Homo sapiens: one gene and its partners. The protein of the gene in region 2 purifies or fractionates together with the protein of the main gene of each other region. This does not show direct contact. Each region holds a gene or a part of one and is shown on either strand. Other genes may lie near its edges. The genes, in order: ABCB8, TSPAN15, TMEM63B, CMTM6, LRRC8A, ZDHHC13 and MAOB.

Region 1 (3,500 bases), on a different chromosome or scaffold from region 2:
GCTGGCCCTCCTGGGGGCTCAGTCCCCAGTAGGCTCCCCCAGGCTGAGCCCCAGCCCTAACACTGATGCTTGGCAGCGACCACACCTCAGGGGGCCCTTCTCAGGACTTGTGCTGGTGGCTCCTGGGGCCTTCTGGCTTTTTGGGCGGTGGGGCCGCTGTCCTCGGGGCATCCAGGGCCTGCCTCCGGATGAGCTCGGCGTATAGCCCGCCTTTCTTCAGGAGCTCTTCATGTGTCCCAGCCTGGAAGATGGGAGGGAAGGGCGGATGGTTGCTCCAAGGCATGCAGGCTTCAGAACCCTCAGAGAGCTGAGCCTCTCTATCAGCCATTGGGCCCATGGTCACTTAGGCCGGTGTCCCTTCTGGGGACACTCTGAAACCAATGCCCAATCTGAAAGGAACCGCCACTGGCATGCTGCATTAGTTACTGCCACTTCCTTACTTAGCTGAATTTTGGAAGAACATGATTCCCTCTGTCCCCCTTACAGAGCCCAAGGCTCCAACTCAGGATCCGTCTCCCTGCACGAGCCCCTCAGCCTTGGCTTGAATGAGTGGCTGTTAGCCAACGCCACACGGCCTCTGGGGTCCTACTCCTGACTCCCTGCACAGGTTCCTTGGCGCTGCTTCTCCTGCACCTGATACCCTGGGCAGCTAGCCCTGCTCCTTGCTCCCAGCACCATACTCTGAGTATGTTTCCTTTTTGTTTTTTGAGACAGGGTCTCATTCTGATGCCAGGCTGGAGCGCAATGGCACAATCATTGTTCACTGCAGCCTCAACCTCTGGGGCTCAAGTAATCCTCCCGCCTCCGCCTCCAGAGTAGCTGGGAGTACAGGTGCATGCCACCACATCCGGCTAATTTTTTTTTTTTGGTATTTTGTAGAGACAGGGTCCCGCTATGCTGCCCAGGCTAGCCTCAAGAGATCCTTCTGCCTTGGCTTCCCAAAGTGCTGGGATTACAGGCACCCGGCTAGTACTTTTCCTTTTGATCCTGGGAGCTGATGGTGCAATTATACTATCCCAGGGGACAGAAGAAGAAACTGAGGGCCTGAGAGGCCAGGGCTTGGCTGAATGCAGGAACTCCTGACTCTATATGGGACGCTGCTTCCAGAATATAGCCCCCAAGGCCCTGGGGCCAGGCCACAACTTCATATAACTCATTGCAGCATTGTGCCACTGTCCGTGATGAAGCCATCCTCAACCCACTGATCCACGCCCCCAGGACAACTAACCTCCCAGACACGGCCATCGGCCATGACGACAATGCAGTGGGCCCCACGGACAGTGCTGAGCCGGTGGGCAATTACCAGCACCGTGCGGCCTGCACTGGCCCGGTCCAGGGCCTCCTGTACAACCCGCTCGGACTCTGCATCCAGCGCGCTGGTAGCTTCATCCAGTATCAGCACCGTGGGCTGCTTGATAAGGGCTCGGGCGATGGCCAGGCGCTGCTTCTGGCCCCCAGACAGGGTAGTGCCCCGTTCACCTGGGAAGGGAGGGGCAGGGCAGGAGCCTGAAGCTGTGCACTTGAGGGTGGCCCACAAAGGGGCACAGGGTCCTTCCTGAACGCCCATCAAGATCCTCTAAGTGCCCCTCTCAGCACTGTGCACCCTCCTCCTGCCTCTGACCCCCACCCCGCACTGTGCATCCTCCTCCTGCCTCTGACCCCCCACCCCACACCGTGCACCCTCCTCCTGCCTCTGACCCCCACCCCGCACTGTGCACCCTCCTCCTGCCTCTGACCCCCCACCCCGCACTGTGCACCCTCGTCCTGCCTCTGACCCTCTACCCCGCACTGTGTACGCTCGTCCTGCCTCTGACCCTCCACCTTGCACTGTGCACCCTAGTCCTGCCTCTGACCCTCCACCCCACACTGTGCACCCTAGTCCTGTCTCTGACCCTCCACCCCGCACTGTGCACCCTAGTCCTGTCTCTGACCCTCCACCCCACACTGTGCACCCTAGTCCTGTCTCTGACCCTCCACCCCGCACTGTGCACCCTAGTCCTGTCTCTGACCCCCACCCCGCACTGTGCACCCTCCTCCTGCCTCTGACCCCCCACCCCACACTGTGTACACTCCTCCTCTGGGTTCCCCCTGCACTGGCTCATCCCACCTCTGGGTCCCTCAGCCACTGTGCACACTTGCCCTGCCTCTGAGGGTGGTGTGACACCGCCAGCAGGGCTTGGTGCACTCCAAGGGAGTTGCCAAATGCCCCTCCCCAGCCATGGCAGTGCCTCAGGCCAGGATGACCCACACCCTGCCCTGTGCCTGCAGTTCCAAGCCACCTTCCCAGCCTCCCGGGTCTCTGTGGCTGTGGGGAACATCCAGCACCCAAACATGGGCTCTGGGGTCCAGTGACTCCAGGGAGGTGGGATTCGAAGCCCACAGAGGACAGCACAAGTGGCAGCCTGGGAGCCAAAAAGAACCTCAAGGTGACAGCAGGGTGACAGGTCAGTAAGGACGCAGCCCCAAGAAGGCCCAAATGAGCAGAAAGTACTAGGATCAGAGACACAAGGAAAGTGCCACCCAAAAGAGATGTGGGAGAGCACCCAGTGAGGACAGCTGGCATCTGGACAGTGTATCAACACGGCTGGAGGAGCCATCTAGAACACGATGGCTGGGCTGGGGACACTGGCCCCACAGCTCAGAAGGCTGGACTCAGACTGACCAGAGTTGAGAAGCCCAGGTATCCCTGTATCCTGAGAAGTGCTGAAACACTGTGCAACAGAGCCAAGACACTGGCCGAGAAACATGGCCCCGAAGGCTGGAAAAAGACCTGGGAGCTCCGCACGTCAAGCTGCAAGGTGCACGCCCTGCAGTGCCAGGCTGCGTGTTCCTAGTTCAGAACCACCAGAGCCCTCTCCTGGGGCCCATCCAGTCACCCCGATTCTAATGAGAAACGACTTTAGAGATGAAAAGCACAGGAAGGAAACAGGAGCCAGAGGGGGATGGATGGTGGAGAGGAGGCAGCCCCCCATTTCTTCTGTTCAGTCTGGGGAAGTGGCGGCCTTTTAGACTCGGTGAGGACTCCAAACACCATGCATCACTGTGTCCCTGGCCAGGAGCCTGTCATATGCCCTCTGTCGCATTCTCCAGCTCCTCCTAGAGCCCGTCCTGTCTCTGCAGCCTGCCTGGTCTGCTGGTTCTGAACCACACTGGCCTGGACTCCCCTGTCCCCACACAACGACTCTGTCCCCTTTGGCTGTGGTTCTCGTCTTCCCTGACACAACTGTCTTTCTCCCCAGCTGTCCCTGCTGCCCTCAGTCCCACTGGGCTGCTCACTGCTCCTGTGGAATCCTGTGTCCCAGTGCCTCACCACCTGGTTCCCGGCAGACCCGAGCACCCACCGACGACCGTGTTGTAGCCCTCGGGGAAGCTGGTGATGAACTCGTGAGCATTCGCTTCCCGGGCGGCTGTGTACACCTCTTCATCGGAAGCTTCCAGCTTCCCAAAGCGGATGTTTTCCATGATGGTCGTCCCAAACAGGACGGGCTCCTGTGGGTGAG
Region 2 (3,500 bases):
CAAACCCTGCCAGGGCCAGGATGCCAGGCATCACCCTGTCAACCTGCCCCTCTCCTCACTCCTCTAGCCGGCATAACAGCCTCTGATGGTACTGCCTCCAAAATATACATCAAATCGCCTTTTTGGCCCAGGCCCACTGCCTCCACCTTGGTACAAGCAATCTTACCCCATTCCCAGGATGACCCCCCACAGCCTCCCAGTTGGGCCCCTGTGTACACCCTCAACTCTTCACTGTCCATTCCCCAACTCAGCAGCCATGGTACAATATAAACTGGGTCACATCGCTTCCCACATAAGACTCTCCAAAGGCTCCTGTCACCTCTAGAAAAAACTCCAAGCTCCCAACTCATGGCCTACAAGGACCTCTGTGATCTGCCTGGCCAGCCCTTTCGACTTCACCTTCCACCCCTCTCCACCCCACCTACCCTCAGCCACGTGGCCTCCACGCTGTTTTGCTCACATGCTAAGCTCATTTCTGCTCAGCTTCCCTCTGCTGGGACCTCACTCAGCTGGCTCCTTTTACCATTTCAGCACGGGCCTCCCATCTCCTCCCCAGGCGCTCTCATGTCAGCTTGGTTCATTTTCTTAGTCGCTGCTTTACTTGTTCAGTGCCTGTCATTCTCTTTCAGCAGAATGAAAGCTCCATGGGGGTTATCTGCCCTGCTCACTGCCATACCCCCAGTTAGCCCAAGGCACCCACAGTGGGTGCTCCATACACACATGGCCGATACACAAATCCACAGGCCCACCTGGTTCCGGAAGGTCAAGGCCACCACGCCACCAATGAGCTCCATGATGAGGCAGATCCCAAGGATGTACATGAACTGGAAAACAGAATTCAGAGACTCACCTGGAGAGGAGCAGTGGGCGTGTGTGGGGTACAGGGGAGGCACCATCTGCTCCAAGAGCAAGCACAAAGAGAAGCATCCCTCGGGGAGCTCCTACCAGCTCCTAGGCCTCTGCCCCCTCCTCCTGTGAGAACGTGGACGTGGACAGGCAGGCCCCAGGAAAACCTGTCTCTGGAGCCGGAGGGCAGGAAGAGTGACTCAGCTGTCCCAGCCAAATGGTTACCTCCATTTGTCTTGGGGGTCTATGTGGAAGAGCACGCCCTTCCCCCACCACCATAAGGAGAGCTGGGCCTCGTTGCCACTGAGCCAGAGGGGCTAGGCCTGGCTTAATGGGCAGGCTGGGGCAGTATGTCCAGCTCCCCACAGAGAGCCCTCAGATGTGACTTCCCAGATCCCCCACAGTGGGTGAGGGGGATGGCTGAAGCTTAGAGGATATGCACCCCCACCTCTGCCCTTTACTAGAGAGCAGGCATTACCCAAACTGATTTCAGCAAATTCCAGCCTCAAGTAGCACCCAAACCCGGTTTACAGTGGATCGTAGGGGCTTCCCATATGAGGGGAGACAATGAGGTCAAGAGACACACAAGTGCAGAGTGAATGGATCTGCCTACTCACTACCCCCAGCTTTAGGGAGTCATCCCTCACCCCACAATAATGGGATACAGGTAGGATTGACTCCCCATGCCCCATCCCAGAATGGGCACATGGCCCAAGCCAGGCCCACCAGAGTCCTGGGACTTTGGCCAGAGCTGGTAGGAAAGATTTCCTGAGATCTAGAACCATAAGGACTTTGTTGGCCTGACGCCGGCAGTGACCACTGCAAAGGGAGCAGCCCCGGCTGGCAGGGGCTGGGGAGATTGCCCAACCCTGCCCAGTGGCGCCATCTAAACCCCTGGACCCAGTGTGGGTTTGCTGGTTGCATGAGCTAATGACTCACTACCATCTCCTTTTTTTGTCTTTGCTTGCTCTCATTTGAGTGTGGTTTTTCCTACTCGCAACTGAGCATCCAGATGAACACAGAGTTTAAGTAAGAACAGTATTCAAATCAGCTTTTACATGCAGGAGGGGAGGTGGCCTGGGCATTCTTGGGCCAGTGTGGTCAGATGGGCTGATCTAAGGAGCTCTCTAAAGGAGGTGGTTTGAGGCAGGGACAAAAGAAACTGAGCTGCCCAAGGGCACAGGGGCAGGCGCCCCAGCTCTCCTGGGGAGTCCCGGCTGAGGGGTGGTGTGGTCCACTCACTGCTTGGAGAAGGTACAGGTTGTCACGGAGGGACGCCAGCACACCAATGAAGGAGACCATGAACATGACGACGCCCAGGAGGATGAGGATGATGGCTGGAGCCAGGAAGGCACTTTCAAGGGTTTTATATTTCTGCCGCTCAACCTCTGCATAGATGCCCACAGACAGGACCAGGGCCCCAATCAGCTGCAGCAAGAAAACAGAGGGTGAGAGAGAGACTGAGGTCACTTGATTTTCTACAGCAAAGAGTCATCTGGGGCTGTGGTACCTGCTGTGGGGGAGGCTTGCCCCAGGTTACAGCACAGAAAGGGCCCTGTTAGCGGCTGAACTGTGTTTCCCCAAATTTTCTCTATTGAAATCCTAACCCCCAGTACCTCGAAATGTGACTATATTTGGAGACAGGGCCCTTAAAGAACTAATTAAAGTTAAAATGAGGTCACTAAGGTGGCCCTAATCCAATATGACTGGTGTCCTTATAAGGGGAAGAGATTATGACACAGACACTCACAGAGGGAAGACTGTGTGAACACGCAGGGAGAAGGCAGCGTCTACAAGCCAGAGACAAGCCTCGGAAGAAATCAACCCTGCAGGCCGGGCGCGGTGGCTCACACCTGTAATCCCAGCACTTTGGGAGGCCGAGGCGGGCAGATCACGAGGCCAGGAGATCGAGACCATCATGGCTAACACTGTGAAACCCTGTCTCTACTAAAAATACAAAAAAGCAGCCGGGCATAGTGGCGGGCACCTGTAGTCCCAGCTATTCGGGAGGCTGAGGCAGGAGAATGGCGTGAACCCAGGAGGTGGAGCTTGCAGTGAGCCGAGATTGTGCCACTGCACTCCAGCCTGGGCAACAGAGCGAGACTCGGTCTCAAAAAACAAAAAACAACAACAACAACAACAAAAAAAAAAAATCAACCCTGCCACCTTGATCTTGGACTTCTAACCTCCAGAACTGTGAGAAAATAAATGTCTATTGTTTAAGCCATTCAGTCTGGTACTTGATGTTATGGCAGCCCTAGCAGACTACTACAGACCCAATCTGGAGATGCCACTTTAGAGGAGAGTATAGATGGGTTAGGGGAAATGCCACTGGCTGGAGGGTCAGAGAACATGGGTTCGAGCCCCAGCTCTGCTACTTGCTAACCCTGGGCCTTGGACAGGCATTTGACCATGTGAGTCTGTGTTCTCATCTGAAAGACAGACTTGAAGACATTCATTTCTGCACTGCTCACACCACGGCTTTCGCGAGTGAATGAATGTGGAAACACTACAAACCTGGAAGTGCGAGGCCGCCACAACGCGTATTAAACAGGCAGGTCACCCCGTGCTCAGGGCAACAGACATTTCACACAGTACCATAACACGGAATTTACTTTCAGGATGACCACAGAGAAGGCCAAAGGTTGGAGCAG
Region 3 (3,500 bases), on a different chromosome or scaffold from region 2:
AGTTACTGTTCTAAAGTATTAAGATAGTCCTCATAAACCCATGAGAATTTAGAAACTTAAATCTGGGATAGGGTCCTTGAGATGTACTTCCCAGGAGGCTAGAGACCTTTCCTCTGATATTGTTCCTCAAACCATTTGAGGTTTCCCCTTTGGAAGGGTGAGCTCTCATTCTCACTAAACTCATCTCTAATCCTCTAAATCCAACCACACAGGCCCGTTGATTTGCATGCAAGATATTTCCTAATTGTGCTGAGACAGTCTTCCAATCCAGACAGACTGCAGACTTGGACCACAAGCCCTGCCTAATCCTGACAATGAGCTCAAGCGCTGTCTCTTAGTCCTCACCATATACCCAGCCCTGTCCCAACAGCTTGTATATAGCAGGTGTTCAATACACATGTGGTAAATGAGCGGATCAATGAAATGGCTACTCCATAATGCTCATCCCAGTGATCCAAAAAACTCCAATTAGGACTAGAGTCTCCCTTACCCCTGCTTATAGGCTGACCTCTCCTAAACAAAACTATAGACCAACCCCTGAAACACAACTAGGATCTTCAGCTTCCCAAGGGCACTGATCAGGTCTGATTATACTCTGTCTCCCAGGCATGAAGCACATAGTAGGTATACAATAAATGTGGGCTGAATGAATAGACAGTTGACTAGTAGGGTTCACTCAGGTCTCTGTTCAAATGCCACGCTGTCAGAGTCCCTCCCTGTCTATCCCATCAGAAATAGCAACCCTTCCCAACCCCTCTTACCCTGCCTGCTTCCCTGCTGTGGTTTTCTTAGCACCTACCTCTTCTTGACACAGTCTCTATTACTAGTTCATCCGGTCCCTGTCCACCCCTCCCCACTAAAATGAAAGCAAATGAGGGCAGGCCTTCTGTCGTTTACTGCTATACCCCCAGCTCCTCCCCAAGCAGGCACATAGCAGGTGCTCACTAGATATTTGTATCAAAAAACAAAAACAAAAACAAAAACAACAAACACCAGATTTCAATACAAGCTGACAACTGATTCCAACTGGATGGTAATATTAAGATGTCACCTAATTCATTGTTACAAAAGATGGTATGAGAAAAAAAAAAGATGTCACTAATTCTGAGTACACACTGTCCTTAATCCTGACCCAGAGTGCCCTTTAATGCTGATGACAGCTTGAACCTCAGATAGGACCCCAAATAGTTCTCTCATACTGACAAGAATGATCTAATTTTGACTGCTGTTTTATAGCCTGTATAAGGGCTGGGCTTGTTTCTAATTTATTTGTGCCTGGCACATAGAAGGTTGTCAATAACTGCATGTAGTATGAAAGAGTATCCATCTACTAATGCTGATCACACACCAGTCCTTAATCTTCTAACACAGGCTCTGGAATCTGACCCTGACCAGATAGATGTTCACTCTCAATCCTGCCCAAACACTATCTCTGATTGGATCACACACTGGCCTGACCCAGGACAATGAGTGAACTCTGATTCTGGCCAACTGACAGGTCTGGACCTCAGATTAAACCTTGATTCTTTACTTTCTTTCTTTTTTGAGACAGGGTCTTGCCCTATTACCCAGGCTGGAGTACAGTGGCGCAATCAGTTCACCACAGCATTAGCCTCTTGGGCTCAAGCCATCCTCCCACCTCAGTCACCTGAGTAGTTGGGACTATTGGTGCATGCTACCATGTCTGGCTAATTTTTATATTTTTTGTAGAGATGGAGTTTCGACATGTTGTCCAGGCTGGTCTTAAACTCCCGGGCTCAAGCAATCTTCTCAAGGGGATTACAGGCATGAGCCACCACACCTGGCCTAAACCCTGATTCTGATGGTAGACTGAGCCCAAATCTCAACCTCAGTCTGGGCCATGATCCAGACCACCAGCATCCTTTATCATGACCACTGGCCAGCTCCTGATTCTGACCACAGACTGACCTCAGAGCAATCTCTGATCAGACCCTGGACTAGCTCCTAAAGCCGACTGCCATACTATGAACCCCCTGAGAACTCAATGATTTTTTTTTCTTTTTTTGAGACAGTCTCGCTCTGCCGCTCAGGCTGAAGTGCAGTGGCACAATCTCGGCTCACTGCAACCTCTGCCTCCTGGGTTCAAGCGATTCTTCTGCCTCAGCCTCCTGAGTAGCTGAGACTACTGGTACGCGCCACCATGCCTGGCTAATTTTTGTATTTTCAGTAGAGACAAGGTTTCACCAGTAGAGACGGGGTTTCACCATATTGGCCAGGCTGGTCTCAAACTCCCGGCCCTCAATGATTTTTTTTTTTTTTTTTTTTAAGACATGGGGTCTCATTATACTGACCAGGCTGGTCTTGAACTCCTGGCCTCAAGTAATTCTCCCATCTTGGGCCTCCCAAAGTGTTGGGATTACAGGCGTGAGCCACCGTGCCTGGCCTCTTCTATTTTTTATTTTTTGAAACATTTGAAACAGGGTCTTGCTCTGTCACCCAGGCTGGAGTGCAGTGGTGCACAGGACTCACTGCAGCCTCGACCTCCTGGGTTCAAGCGATCCTCCCACCTCAGCCTCCCAAGTAGCTGGGACTACAGGCGCACGCCACCACACCTGGCTAAGTTTGTATTTTTTGGTAGAGATGGGGTCTTGCTATGTTGCCCAGGCTGGTCTTCAACTCCTGGGCTCAAGTGATCTGCCCACTTTGGCCTCCCAAAGTGCTGGGATTACAGCCATGAGCCACCATGCCTGGCCTCATTCATTTTTTACAGTCCCAAAGCCCACCACAGTAACTTATGACTAACAGCACTTGAGAAAGTTTGCTGAGTGAACAGATGCCTGTGTGAGAGTAGCCCTAATCCTGTGGTATAGAGACTGTCCCTACACACCCCCATGGAGGGGCCCTTCACTGATTCCCCACCCTATGAGCTGCGCCCCAAGGTGCATCCCTAGCCATGGGGTGACCAGGTAAGTTCCCTCTTTGCCTCATTATACCACCTCCCTTTTCTCTAGTTTCTGGCCATAGGTCTGCTCTACCCACCCCAAAACATAATTCTAGAGCTGAAAAAGCCTCAGAGAATACACAGTTCAAGTTCTCCTGGACTCCTTGGAATCCACTGGAAACCAAGGAGCTTCTCCCTGTCATGGCTGCACACAAACTCCAGAATGCTGCTTTTAATTTTGAAGAAGATATGTACTCCAATGGACCTGGGTCAACAACCTATGACCCAGTCTGAGCCAGGAGGAGGTTTGGGGGTTAGGGGGTTTGAATGACTCACTCTTCAGGTTTTTGTCTTATTTTTCCTGTTCTTAAAGGGGCCTATCACCCGACCCAAGTGCTAAACCACCCTGGAATCGGACATTTCTTCCTGGATCTAATCTCTATCCCACCCACGGCAGAGCTCCAGGCTAGGGTATAAGGATGTTCTTAGAGTTCAAAGGCAGAGAAGGCTCTGCAGCAGGGCTTGAGGGTAGGGGGAAGCGTGGCTTACTCACTCAAAATGCTTCTTGATCTTTTCTGACTCTGCATATTTGGAGATT
Region 4 (3,500 bases), on a different chromosome or scaffold from region 2:
GCCTTGGCTTCCTAAAGTGCTGGGATTACAGATGTGAGCCATCGCATCTGGCCGACAGAATTTCATATTGACTATAGCTTGTAGTGCCAATTTGTTGGCCTTTAACTTGAGATGGGAGCTAGTAAATGTCCACACTTTTTTTTTTTTTTTTTTTGAGATAGTCTCGCTTTGTCACCCAGGCTGGAGTGTAGTAGCGCCATCTTGGCTCACTGGAACCTCTGCCTCCTGGGTTCAAGCAATTCTCATGCTTCAGCCACCCAAGTAGCTGGGATTACAGGCATGCGCCACCATGCCCAGCTAATTTTTCTATTTTTAGTAGAGATGGGGTTTTGCCATGTTGGCCAGGCTGGTCTTGAACCAGGTTGGCCAGAAGGCCTCAAGTGATCTGCCCGCCTTGGCCTCCCAGAGTGCTGGGATTACAGGTGTGAGCCACTGTGCCCTGCCAGATGTCCATACTTAATATTGTACTCCTTGATTCTCTTAAGATGTCCAGGCAGAACCTGCTTCCTGCTATTGCTCTGAGGCAATAGGTCAGTAAGGTCAGTAGGAATGCCACCTGTTAATACGTTTGGAATAGGACTTGTAATGACTTGAGACTGACTGCTTCTGGACAAGCTGGATCCTGTCTTTTTTTACTGAAAGTAGACAAGCAGCCTATGTCTGTCCTACAGATAACCTTTTATTGCCATATAGCCTTCACACATGAGTGTGCCTAATAGTCTAATTGTAAAATGAGTGGTTCAGCTATTCCCAGACCCTAATTAGAGTTTTAGGCTGGTATCTTCTCTCAGTTAATTGACTTTTATACAACCGAGGTATATTTTGTAAATTTCTCAGAGAGAAACTTTTAAAACTTGGACAAGATTTAACATAGAGGCAAGAAAAAGGCAAGTGAAATGTTAGATATTTAGTATTTTATTAGACTATAGTCATGTTAGAACTCATCCTGTAAGTATGATTATAGGAGACTAAGGAAGTATCTTTACACAGTGGCCCTCTGGGATTTATCTTGGTGTTGTCACTTTATATCCTGTGGTGTAATGATTGGGAATGCCTTACCTAACACCTGTCTGAAGGAAGTTGTTTGGGACATGCTGGGCTATTTCATGCTTCACTAACTTACAGGAAATCAGAGAATGTAACCATTCATGTTACAATTAGACTATTTTTTTTCTTTTATATAAATTCTTTGCAGTTGTGGGGATGTATACATTTTGTATAGCCAGTAGAAGGGAGAGGAAATCCCTTAAAGGTTTGGATACCAGTATAGATTTGAATTACTATTTTTTAACTTTTTATTTTGAAATTATTATAGATTCACAGGAATTGCAAAAAAAAAAAGTACAGGGAGGTCCCACATTTGTATGTGCATGTGTGTGTAATTCTATGTAATTTTACCATGTGGATAGCTTTCTATAATTACCACCACAATCAAGACACAGAACTGTGCCATCAGCAGAGGCTTCCCTGTGCTACCCCTTTGTAGCCACACCTTTCCCCTTTCTCTTGGCTGCCACTAATTTGTTAGCCATCATTATTATTTTTATTATTCTAAGAATGGGCTATGAATGGAATCATGCAATATGTAACCTTTTGAGATTGGATTTTTTTTTTCCTTTGAATAATTCTCTGGAGATTCATCTAGGACATTACATATATCAAGTTTGCTCCTTTTTATTGCTAATATTCCATGGTATGGATGTACCACAGTTTGTTTTAACCATTGGACATCTGGAATGTTTCTAGTTTGGGGCTACTATGAATAAAATTGTTATAAACATTCACGTACCGGTTTTTGTACAAATGTTAAGTTTTCATTTCTCTGAGATAGTTGCCCAAGAGTTCTATTTCTGGGTCATATGGTAGATATATGCTTAGTTTTTAAAGAAACCGCTGAACTGTTGTTTGTCCCTTTTTAATGAAAATGTTTTGTAGGATAAGATATTTACTATTACTATGAAATGTATCTGTTGATTTTGGTAGCAATCTTGTTGCCATTAACCTGTCTGGTTGCTTCTACTGGCCTGACTGGAGTGAGAAGGGAATTCCCTTTAGCCTCTGACTTAGGTCATCAGTCATTTTGATGGTTTCGGCCCTCAGCAGGAAATTCCCTCAGCTTCCACAAAACCCACACAAACTGCCCAAGCAAAATACTCTTCTTCACTCTCTTCCCTTCTATTTCTAGAGAAGAGTTAGCCCCAAACCTGAGCCCTGAATCCTATCTTTAGAGAGCCATTTTTCTACCTATGTCTTTAGACCCACCCATCTTACTGGTTTCTGCCTAAGTATTTAAACATGCTCAGTTCTCCCATGTTGAAATTCCCTTCTCTTTGACCTCATCCACTACTGCCCTATCTGGCCATTCTTTCCCAGCCACACTTATTGCCTATGCTGTCTCTCCTTCACTGCCTTACCCTCCCCTTACTTCCCAATATACAGTATTGTAATCGAGCTTCTCTCCCTGACTACCCTGGAACTTTTCTTGCTAATGTCACTGGCAACCTTCTTATAGCTCAGTCTAAGGTAGGTGTTTCAGTGTTGTTCTTACTTGACCTTTAAGTAGCATTTAGCACTCTTGATTACTTGTGTGTTTGTGCATGTGTGTGTAAATACTTTTTTCTTGTTTACTACCCCTTTGATTGCTGCTGCTAGTTGTCCTTTGCTGGTTTCTTCCCCTCTGCATATCCCGTAAATCTTCAGATTCCTCAGATTTCCACATAAGGCTATCTTTCCTCATTTGAGTCATCTCACCCTCCCACTCTGCCAGCTCCCACATCTTTATCTGCATCTTAGACCTCTCCTTTGAGCTCCAGACCTTATATTCATTTGCTTTCCAACTACATCTTCACCAAACTCTTCCACAGACCTCCTCAATCACAGCATATTTAAAACTGAATTTCTTCTCTCCCTAGCACCCTTGCCTTTTAAAAAGAAAAAAACCTGACTCTTTTTTCAGTGAGGACCAGTATGTTAGTACCACATATACAGCAGTTGGAAGTAGTTAAAACCCACTTGCGTGTAATTGAGTTGCCAATTTAACCAGAGTTAACATTCTCCACTCACCATACCAAGCATCCTGACCTCACACCAGTCACCCACAGCCTGCCATGGCCAGTAGGCATCTCATTAGCACTCTAGAACTCTTGCTTCTGTCATCAGTTGAGTTGTGTTGTTCCCATACTGGTTTATGCTAACTATACTTTTATGGCCATACAGTTAAATATTACAAAGCTGAAACTGAGTGTTAAAATGAATTGTTTCTTTAAAACTAAATTGAATGCTTTGGAAAGACTGAAAGATAACTTACTACAAGATTTATCTGCCATGGAATTAAGGAAGAGCAAGGCAACTGTAAAAGGCTGGTAAAATAGTCTGACTCTAGAAAGATTCTGAACTCTGTTTCTCAAGTGTTTAAGATCTCACTTCACTTCAGATAACATCAGTCTGGAAGTAGTAGTCCATAGATGATGAAAGTGATTAATGCAGAAAACATGTGGAAT
Region 5 (2,704 bases), on a different chromosome or scaffold from region 2:
TTCCAGCCTGGGTGACAGAGTAAGACTCTGTCTCAAAAAAAAAAAAAAAAAAAAAAAATTAGCCAGCATGCCCCTGTGGTCCTAGCTACTTGGGAGGCCGAGGTGAGATCACCTGAGCCTGGAGAGGTCAAGGCTGCAGTGAGCCGTGATCACGCCACTATATTCCAGCAGTGCACTCTAGGTGACAGAATGAGACCCTGTCAAAAAAACAACAACAACAAAAAAACCCCCTCATGAGTGCCCAACCACAGGTGAGTAGGATGACAGAGATTGTGCTGGCTATGGGATCCCCAGCCCAGGTCACAGCCTGTTACCTAGCAGGTGCTGCGTCCAGCTTACAAGCTCCAGTAACTGCCTCCAAAGGCACAGAGTCTCATGGGGCAGGAGATGAGCAGAGTTAACTCTCCTGTAGGTGCCCAAGCAACGTTCCACACGGCCCGGCAGGCTTCAGAGAAGTGAGGGAAGCGTCCTCCCATGACACAAAGACCTCCAAAGGCCACTTTCTGTTATAGATTTTATTTGATACTGTGACCGAGTCTACAAGTTCAGACCCACATGTAACGGATTTTTGCTTCATGGTTGTCAGAGGCTAGTGTGCATTATTTCTGAGGATTATATCCAATGACACGACGCAGAAAACACAAATGGACGGACAGACGGATGGACATAATCATTAAGACAAGAGACTCTAAAACGTGCCTTAGTGTCCACGTGATTGATCTAAGGCGGGGACCCTTCTAAGGTGGGGACCCGAGTGATCTAAAGCAGGGTGGCTTCCAGCCACCAGGTGCCGACTGGGCTGTGTGCACTCCAGGCGCCAGGGACGGGAACCGGCTTGGAACCAACGCCTGCCCTCCCAGGGGCGACCTCCCCATTCCCGACCAGCCTCTAAGTGTCTGCTCTTCATGAAGGACCAGGTGGTGACAGGGCTGATGGAAGCAGCGGAGGCCAGCGGTGGCACTGGACACACCCATGCCGCAGGCGGTGGGGAAACAAAGTCTGGGCGAAGTGGCTCCTCTTGGCTCCTTAACACTGTGCGTGGAGAGGCAGGGCAGGCACGAGGAGGGGAGGTGCGAATGGAGCACCGTTCATCCGGGGATTAGCCAACCCGAGTCTCCTCCCTCCTTGGCAGCTCCAGAACATTCCCTCTGGCCGACAGCCACAGAAATGAGTGCCTGCCAAGACACATGGAGGAGAAAGAAAACAAGACACCAAAAAAACCCAAAAAACAAACAAAAAAACCTCCCTCCCCAGGAACAAATAGAACTCCTGGACCAAGGTCACACCAGATCCGGAAGACACCCTGCACCCTGCGCCCAGGGAAAGGAAACACAGTTCAACGTCTGGCTGCTTTGCTCAAGGGAAACTGCCACCCTGCCCTGAGACTCCAACTCACTGGCCGTTAGTGTCTTTTTTTTTTTAAGTTTTTTTTTTCTTTTTAATACCCAAACCATCCATTTTCAAAGCTTTTTTTTTAAAAAAATTGTTTTTTGATTAAAAAAAAAAAAACAAAAAACTAAAACTGCCACAAATACTGAAGAGGCAAGCTCCAGGCCTGGCCTTTCCAGCTGGAGGCCTGCTCTCCCGTGGACCGCACCGCAGAGCCCAGCCCGGCACTGCTGGGTGACCGTCCCATGGCTGGTTCGCCCCGGACCACTCTGCTGAAGTCCAGGTGGGTGTTAAATGCCCGGCGGCATCGCTAAATAAGGACAAGGGGAAAAGGCAGCCCACCTTTCCCTGAACACCTTCCATCTGGGCTGAACTTTCTTGGGAATGTATAAGTTATCTGGATGAAGGAGGTGGGAGATGGAGAAAAATAAATACCAAGAACTAAAGTGAGGGTCCCAGGACCTCTGGTGGCAGCTCAGCCCCTGGGGCAGAGCTGGCCTCCAGGGAGGAGACCCTGATTATCCAAATACTGCGCTCTTGAGACTTGCTCTCCTCCACAAGCACTTGCCCTGGGGGACGTGAGTCTCAGAGGGAGAAAAGGGGCCAGCCCCACAGATACTGTCCTCTCGCTCTGGCCTGACTCACAAGCGGCCCCAGGCTCCTGCCCAGCCACGAGGCTGTCCTGGCTGTCCGGGAGTTCTGGGAGAAGCTAGGCCTGCCCCTCCGGGCCTGAGGACTGGGCAGCGGTCCTGCTGCTTGCTGTGCTGGGCCGGCCTCGCTCAGGCCTGCTCCTTGTCAGCCCTCCACAGCCGCTCCTTCACCTCGGGTGGCAGTGTGTTGAACAGGTCCTCCTCCACCACCAAGCCGCTGCGCTTGAGCAGTGGGCACTCGCCCAGCTCCACAGGCAGGCACTCCAGCCGGTTGCCCCGCAGCTCGATCTGCGTCAGGTTGGTCAGCTCGCCCACCCTGGAGGGCAGTGACTGCAGCACGTTGTTGCCCAGGTGCAGGGCCCGCAGCTTCCGGCACTGGAAGAGCTCCGGAGGGAGCGTCTCGATCTGGAGGGAAAAAAGCAGGGGTGAGAGTGAGGTGGGTGTGGGCTTGGACGGGGCCTCTGGGCTTCCCTTCCCTCTCTCCCCAAGATCTCAGCATCTTTTCTGATCCCCAGGCCCCCAGCATCAGCACAATCTGGGCCAAACTCTGGCCAACATCTGCCTGTGCACCAGGTCTCAGCTCTTGCTCACTTCCTCCAGGAAGCCTTCCCTGATCTCCTGGGTCTCATGGCCCCCATGTCCCCACTCGCAGTGCTCATCCTTCC
Region 6 (3,500 bases), on a different chromosome or scaffold from region 2:
TACCACTTCACACTAGTCAGAATGCTATTATTCAAACGTCAAAAAATAAGAGATGCTGGCAAGGTTACAGAGACAAAGGAATGCTTATACACTGTTGATGGGAGTGAAAATTAGTTCATTGTGGAAAGCAGTATGGCGATTCCTCAACGAGCTAAAAGCAGAACTACCATTCAACCCAGCAATCCCATTACTGGGTATATACCCAAAGGACTATAAATCATTCTACTATAAAGACACATGTATGTGAATGTTGACTGTAGCACTATTCACAATAGCAAAGACATGGAATCAATGTAAATGCCCATCAATGACAAACTGGGTAAAGAAAATGTAGTACATATAAACCATGGAATACTATGCAGCCATAAAAAAGAATGAGATCATGTCTTTTGCAGGAATACGAATGGAGCTGGAGGCTATTACCCCTATGCAGGAACAGAAAACCAAATACTGCATGTTCTCACTTATAAGTGGGAGCTAAATGATGAGAACTCATGAACACAAAGAAAGGAACAGCAGGCTGGGCATGGTGGCTCATGCCTGTAATCTCAGCACTTTGGGAGGCCAAGGTGGGTGCATCACTTGAGGTAAGGAGTTCAAGAACAGCCTGGTCAACATGGTGAAACTCCGTCTCTACTAAAAAAAAAAAAAAAAAAAAAAAAAAATTAGCCAGGGTGGTGGTATGTGCCTATAGTTCCAGTTACTTGGGAAGCTGAGGCAGGAGAATCACTTGAACCTGGGAGGCAGAGGTTGCAGTGAGCCGAGATCACACCACTGCACTCCAGCTTGGGTGACAGAGCAAGACTCCACTGCAAAAAAAAAAAAGAAAAAGAAAAGAAAAAAAGAAGAAGGGAACAACAGACACTGGGGTATACTTGAGGGTGGAGGGTGGGAGGAGAGAGAGGAGCAGAAAAAATCACTACTGGGTACTAGGCTTAATACTTGGGTAAGGAAATAATCTATACAACAAACCCCCATGACATAAGTTTGTGTATATAACAAACCTGCACATGTATCCCCAAACCTAAAACAAAAGTTTTTAAAAGAAAGTTTTAAAATTTTCAGTTTTACTTAAATGAGTCCATAATCCCTCAAGGGATTATTTTGAAGGGGCACTGTTTTTAAAAAGTTAATTTACAGTAAAATTAACTTTGGTATACAGCTGTATGAATTTTAACACATGTATGTATGGAGTCACGTAACCGCCACCATCATCCTTTGCAGTCATACCCTCCCGTAACCCCAACCAACTCTTGGCAACCACTGATCTGTTGTCATTAATTCTGTCTTTCCCAGAATGTCATATAATGGAATCATACAGTACACAATCTTTTAGGAGGGGCTTCCTCCACTCAGCACAATGGTGCTGAGATTTAACCAAGTTGTTGTATGTTATCAATAATTCCTTCTTTTTTACTGCTGTGTAGTATCCCACTATATGGGTGCGTCACAGATAATCTATCCAAACAGTCTGCGTGGGTTGTTTTCCAGCTTTTGGCAATCATAAACAGAGCTGCTAAAAATATTCGTGGACAAACTTTTGTGTGAACATCCTTTCATTTCTCTAAGAATAAGACTGCTTGGCCATATGTTAGGTATATTTAAATTTATGAGAAACTGCTAAACTATTTTCCAGACTGGCTATATCACCTTGCATTGCCACTAACAACTATGAGAGTTACAATTGTTCTGCATTCTCACCAGCACTTGGGATTGTCAGTCTAATAGATGTATAGGGGCATCTCATCATGGTCTTAATTTGCATATCCTTAACGGCTAATGAAGTTGAGCATCTTTTCACATGCTTATTTGCCACCTGTATATCTTCTCTGGTGAAGTGTCTGTTCAAGTCTTTTGTCCATTTTTTAATTGAGCTGTTTGTTTTCTTACTGTTAAGTTTTGAGAGTTCTTTATATTATATATTCTAGATACAAGTCTTTTGTCAGATATGTGATTTGCAGATATTTTCTCCTGGTCTGTACCTTACCTTCCCATCTCTTAAAAGTCTGTTTCATAGAGCAGAAGTTTTAAATTTTAAAAAAGTCCAATTTATCAATTTGTTCTTTTATGGATTGTGCTTTTGGTGTCACGTCTAAAAACTACTGTCTTGGGGTCACAATTCCTCTGTTCAGAGAGTTCTCCCTCAGTGTTTCTGGTGACTGTGCTGCCAGGAAATCCCTTTGTGGCTCCTTGAGCTTTAACTAGATAGCTTCTCATAGAGCACTCGTCTGCACTGATGCTTATTTCCAGGGCTCAAGTCAAGGCTGGGGGCAAATCAGAGAGAAAAAAGGTAAATCAGCTACTGATTTGGTGGTTTTTGAATTCCGGTCTTTTTCTTCTTCAGTCCACCTGCTTTTCTGAATAGGTAAATTCTGATTTATCTGGTAAATAATCAGTACCCCCCCACACACACGCAGAATCACACACAGCTAAAAATAAACATGTAGGTAGTTAGATTAAAATGTAAATAAAAACATTACTTTAGGATGCTTTTCCTGATATCACAGTAATTATATTCAATTGGAAGAAGGCAAAGGGTTGAGGAAAAGAGTTGAACTATACTAAAAATTTCTAGAATCTCAATAAGTAACAGGTATAACAAAAAGTGCAGCTAAGATTGACAAAAAAAATCAGTGTATTTTTATATAAAAAATTTTTACTAGAATTTTAAAACCATAAAATGATAACATATTAATTTTAAAGATCTAGCAATACAGAAGTGAATACAGGGTTAACAATCCGGACTCTTTCCTCTTCAATACTGTACCACCAGAGATAACCATTATTAACAATTGGGTGCATCTTCCCTCATTATGTATATATATTTTAACATATATAATATTGTGCTATATACATACATACATCCACATTTTTAATCATTTTCTTCTTATACTTATTGAACAAAGAATAGTATCACATTATATACATTATTCTTCAACTTGCTTTTCTCATGTAACAATATATCATGTACAGTCCTGCAGTTCAGTAATATTTCACTATTGTTCCATTGTATATAGATCTAGTATAATTCATTCAACACTCCCCTTTGGTTAGAGACACAGGTTGATTTCAGCCTTTCATATCTATACACAATCAACACCCTGGGCATTCTAATTCTATAGGATTGATTCCTCAAAGTAGGACTGTTGAGTCAAAAAACGTGCATTTTAAACATAAATAGATTCTGACCAAATACTCTCCCCAATTCACAGTCCCAATAGCAAAGTATATACGTGTTCTTTCTCCCTACAAACCTTCCCAGAACTGAATATTATCAATCTTTTTACAACCTTGACACTTTGATGGCTAAAAATGGCATCCTATCTTTCACCTGTACTCCCCTAGTTGCTAATGAGTCTGAGTGTTTTGTTTGTTGTTGTTGTTGTTGTTAGGTATACTGGCTCTCCATATTTTCTCTTTTGTGGATTGCCTTTTCATAGTCTACTTGTTTTTCTAATGAATTGCACATATCTGTTTCTCTTTGTAGGTTAGAAAGATTA
Region 7 (3,500 bases), on a different chromosome or scaffold from region 2:
AGACACCCTCTCTCTTTAGACTCTCACAAGTAGCCCCCTTTTGTGGGCCAGGAAGCCAAGAGCCGTTGCTGAAAAGATGGTGGTCAATCCAATCAGCCTGAGCAGGCCTGGCACGGAGGGCAAATGTCTCTCCAAAAAGGTGGTGGTGATGGGCTGTGCAGGGACATCCTAGGTTCAGAAAACATTGGGTATTAGTACAGGGCTTGTGCACTTTATTCCAGAAAGTCTGTACTTTCTCCAGCTCTCTGAACATGACCCATTCTTGCCAACGTCTAGACCAGTAAACACGATGTTCCCTCTGCTTATACTGTTTACCCTGTCTTCCTCACTGGACCCTTCACTTCCTCAGGGAGGCTTTCTTTCCTGAGACCCCAGCCTAGGATGACATTCTCCTTTTGCATTTTTTCTCAGCATGTCTTCTTCACTGTTCTGTACTTTTTGGTTATCATCTGCATTCTCCACCAGATGTTGAGCTCCACAAAAATGCTGCTGTGCCTTTGCCACAATGGCTGATACAGAACACGTGTGCCATAAATACTTGTTAGTAAATGAATCAATGGTCCCTACAGCCCACAATCCCATCCCTGGCAGAAGCACTAAGAGAATGACTGTGGAGTGGCAGGCCTATTCTCTTTGACTTCACACTTAAAAGGATAGAGCAATAATTCTGACCTTTGTGACTTTGTCCTCTAAAGTGCGTTTGCACTCTAACCTCTATGCATCCCTCCTTCCAGCCAGGAAAACTTCCTAGGATTTTATTACAAAAATGATGAGTATATTAAAAATAAAATTTTAATCTAAATATTCTCCATTTCATTCCATTTGTTTGTCCCTGGACAGGAGATGCTAACACACTTTCCTTTCTTTTCCTACCTCATGTGGAGAATCACCAGGCTAGATATTTATTTGACAGGCATTTATTGAGTTATTATTTTTAGAAGTCTCCGAGAAATGTCTCCCTCCTCATCAAAAAATATTTTTTCCTAATAATCTGTAATGAATGTGACAGCTACAAATTTATCAAAGTTCATCTAAATCTCTCACCTCTACCCTAACCCATGATACTTATTTAAACATTCATGTTTAAATCACTTAGTTGAATCACTTAGGAAAAGGTATGTGAATATATACAAGTGTGCTCTTCTTGAAAATAATGGGTTTAGAGAAAAGATATCTAATTTCATGAAATAAAACATAGCCTACCACAGACTCTGGTTCTGACTGCCAGATTTCATCCTCTGGAATCTTCCCCATGGCATGCAGGATCTGAAATGAAAGAACACACTGGCAAATAGCAAAAGTGACACCATCTTTCTTCTAATCTGCTCCCTAAAGGACTAAGTAACTGTCTCTTGAGATATCCATCAAAAACACCAAGGTAAAGGCCAGAACACTCCATACAACCTTTAAGAGGCGCCAAAAGGTCTTTCTCCTGTGGTATAAGAGGTTCCAATCATTAGGCTTACCATAAATTTTAATAGTTATGAACACACCTCAAATAGGGATGACATCAGAGGAACTGTCAGAAAATCTTTCCTGTGAAATGAATTGAATTTTGAGTCCTAATAGAAGCATGTTTGGTTCTAGAATATCAGACCTAGGTTACCTTTCAAGTATAGTCAGGTTGATCGTTTGCCCCATGGGCTCTTTTTACTTCGGGTGACATGTTAGGTATTTTCATTATTACTTCGGGCTAAGGTGTTCACTTCACCTGAGACAATAGTTAAAATAGTATTTTATGGGTCTTAAGATGGGGGTTACTGGAGAGTTGGTCTCCAGGCTCTCAGATATCTTTGACCTACATGTCAGGACCATGAGTTGCCTCCTTCCCCATAATCTATGACCCCAGACCCTACCTCTCGGGCTGCTCTCTCCCCGGCCTCTACAGCCCCCTCCATGTAGCCGCTCCAGTGTGTGGCAGTCTCGGTGCCTGCAAAGTAAATCCTGTCCACTGGCTGGCGTAGAACCCTTGGAACAAAACCAAAGAGGCAAAAGTGGTCAGTCTCAGAGAGTCAGAGAAAAGTTTTCCCATAAAGACCAATGCTGGTCAGCTTCCACAGATTCTAAACAATCAAGAAGGACATTGGCAATTTTGGAATAATGTTTATGTGGTTCCTCCAGCTCTTACATGATCCTTGTCACAAACAAAATAGAATAAAAGCCAAAGTTCACTCCTGCACCAAGAGTTGCAGGTGAAGGAGCTGACATTAATGGACGTAAATTATGTATTTGCTTCATCAACATGAAGTGAGGGACTGTGTAAGCCCAGTCACATGGCTCCCTTTATGGCTCACTGGCTCTGTGGCAAGGTGATACATGCCCCCAATTCCCCACTGGCTATTCCACTAGTGAACTTGGCAAATCACTTACTCTCACTGTGCTCTGGCTTCCTTGCCTCTTAAAGGGAATGGTCCACTGATTTCTAAGACCCTTTCAATCAGTAACATTTAACAAATCTGAGAGTCTGACTATGGCTCCATAACTCCTATTCCTTGAACACTTGCCTGTACTGGTGAGGTCGGTACTATTATTATCACCATTTTGCAGATAAGAATATGGAGGTAGACTGTGGTGGACATTGTGATGAACCACGCAGGCCCCCTTCAAGAATGAAAGACTTATTCCCAGCTGCTGGGAGTGCTGCCAGAAGAGGGCCTACTGATGTCAGCCCTCTTTGGAGATTGCCTCTGCTAAAAAAAACTATGTTACCTACTAGGTCATGCCTCCTTCCAATAGCAGTTGCATCCAGTGACTGATCACCACGGGCTGTAAATACCTGATTCCCAAGCTCCAACTTGAGACCTCCCACTCTGAAGGGCCATTCTAGTTCTGGAACTTCCTCTGGGGTCAGCTGAGGCCTTCACTGGAACTGCACTGCAGCCCAAGTTCTCCCTATGCCCACTCCTGCTTCCTTCTCCCTTCCACAGCTGCCAATCCTAAGGGCATGCCTTAATATATATCCTGTCTGCTAATCGTTGTTTCAGGGTCTGCTTCCTGGAACCTAACCAGCAACAAAGACAAAGTAATTTGCTCTCGGTCACAGCTAGTAAGTAGCAGAGTTGGTATTTGAACACAGGCAATCTGACTCTGGAACCTACAGTCTTAACCACTTAGTTATACTTCCTCTCTCTACTGCATTATTTCTTCAATCTATTAAAGAACTCTGTGATGTAGCTACTATTATCATTATCTCATTTTTACATATGAGAAGACTGAGGCTTGGAGAAATGTTCAGTGATATGCCAAGAGCCACACTCCTAGAAAATAGCAAAGCCAGGATTTGAACCATGTCTAACAGATGTCAAAGTCTCTATTTTTATCTTATATTCTTTGCCTGGTGTATCATCACCCTATAATATTTAATAGTTAGTAGACTGCCCACATGCTATACAAGGGACTGAAATGTCATAGCACTTGGCCTGTAAGAGGGGCAGTTCATTGTTGCTCTGACAAAAATACCATAAGGAAAGCACCGTCAACATGCCATTATTCATCCTGTC

The links.
Region 1: the proteins of TSPAN15 (region 2) and ABCB8 purify together in Homo sapiens (affinity purification with mass spectrometry; one large-scale study listed by BioGRID and IntAct). This does not show direct contact.
Region 3: the proteins of TSPAN15 (region 2) and TMEM63B purify together in Homo sapiens (affinity purification with mass spectrometry; one large-scale study listed by BioGRID and IntAct). This does not show direct contact.
Region 4: the proteins of TSPAN15 (region 2) and CMTM6 purify together in Homo sapiens (affinity purification with mass spectrometry; one large-scale study listed by BioGRID and IntAct). This does not show direct contact.
Region 5: the proteins of TSPAN15 (region 2) and LRRC8A purify together in Homo sapiens (affinity purification with mass spectrometry; one large-scale study listed by BioGRID and IntAct). This does not show direct contact.
Region 6: the proteins of TSPAN15 (region 2) and ZDHHC13 purify together in Homo sapiens (affinity purification with mass spectrometry; one large-scale study listed by BioGRID and IntAct). This does not show direct contact.
Region 7: the proteins of TSPAN15 (region 2) and MAOB purify together in Homo sapiens (affinity purification with mass spectrometry; one large-scale study listed by BioGRID and IntAct). This does not show direct contact.

What each region holds. Positions count from the first base shown.
Region 1 is NC_000007.14:151,041,950-151,045,449, reverse strand, and holds part of ABCB8 (mitochondrial potassium channel ATP-binding subunit), read right to left. Parts: intron 3,490-3,500; coding exon 3,342-3,489; intron 1,480-3,341; coding exon 1,229-1,479; intron 242-1,228; coding exon 101-241; 3' UTR 1-100. UniProt on the Homo sapiens protein: ATP-binding subunit of the mitochondrial ATP-gated potassium channel (mitoK(ATP)). Together with pore-forming subunit CCDC51/MITOK of the mitoK(ATP) channel, mediates ATP-dependent potassium currents across the mitochondrial inner membrane.
Region 2 is NC_000010.11:69,482,465-69,485,964, reverse strand, and holds part of TSPAN15 (tetraspanin-15), read right to left. Parts: intron 2,275-3,500; coding exon 2,089-2,274; intron 825-2,088; coding exon 750-824; intron 1-749. UniProt on the Homo sapiens protein: Part of TspanC8 subgroup, composed of 6 members that interact with the transmembrane metalloprotease ADAM10.
Region 3 is NC_000006.12:44,141,054-44,144,553, reverse strand, and holds part of TMEM63B (mechanosensitive cation channel TMEM63B), read right to left. Parts: coding exon 3,456-3,500; intron 1-3,455. UniProt on the Homo sapiens protein: Mechanosensitive cation channel with low conductance and high activation threshold. Osmosensitive cation channel preferentially activated by hypotonic stress.
Region 4 is NC_000003.12:32,492,853-32,496,352, reverse strand, and holds part of CMTM6 (CKLF-like MARVEL transmembrane domain-containing protein 6), read left to right. Parts: intron 1-3,500. UniProt on the Homo sapiens protein: Master regulator of recycling and plasma membrane expression of PD-L1/CD274, an immune inhibitory ligand critical for immune tolerance to self and antitumor immunity.
Region 5 is NC_000009.12:128,915,836-128,918,539, reverse strand, and holds the end of LRRC8A (volume-regulated anion channel subunit LRRC8A), read right to left. Parts: intron 2,476-2,704; exon of another isoform or gene 2,445-2,475; coding exon 2,169-2,444; 3' UTR 501-2,168; downstream 1-500. UniProt on the Homo sapiens protein: Essential component of the volume-regulated anion channel (VRAC, also named VSOAC channel), an anion channel required to maintain a constant cell volume in response to extracellular or intracellular osmotic changes.
Region 6 is NC_000011.10:19,123,668-19,127,167, reverse strand, and holds part of ZDHHC13 (palmitoyltransferase ZDHHC13), read right to left. Parts: intron 2,260-3,500; exon of another isoform or gene 1,996-2,259; coding exon of another isoform or gene 1,988-1,995; intron 1-1,987. UniProt on the Homo sapiens protein: Palmitoyltransferase that could catalyze the addition of palmitate onto various protein substrates. Palmitoyltransferase for HTT and GAD2. May play a role in Mg(2+) transport.
Region 7 is NC_000023.11:43,767,451-43,770,950, forward strand, and holds part of MAOB (amine oxidase [flavin-containing] B), read right to left. Parts: intron 1,969-3,500; coding exon 1,857-1,968; intron 1,267-1,856; coding exon 1,204-1,266; intron 169-1,203; coding exon 16-168; 3' UTR 1-15.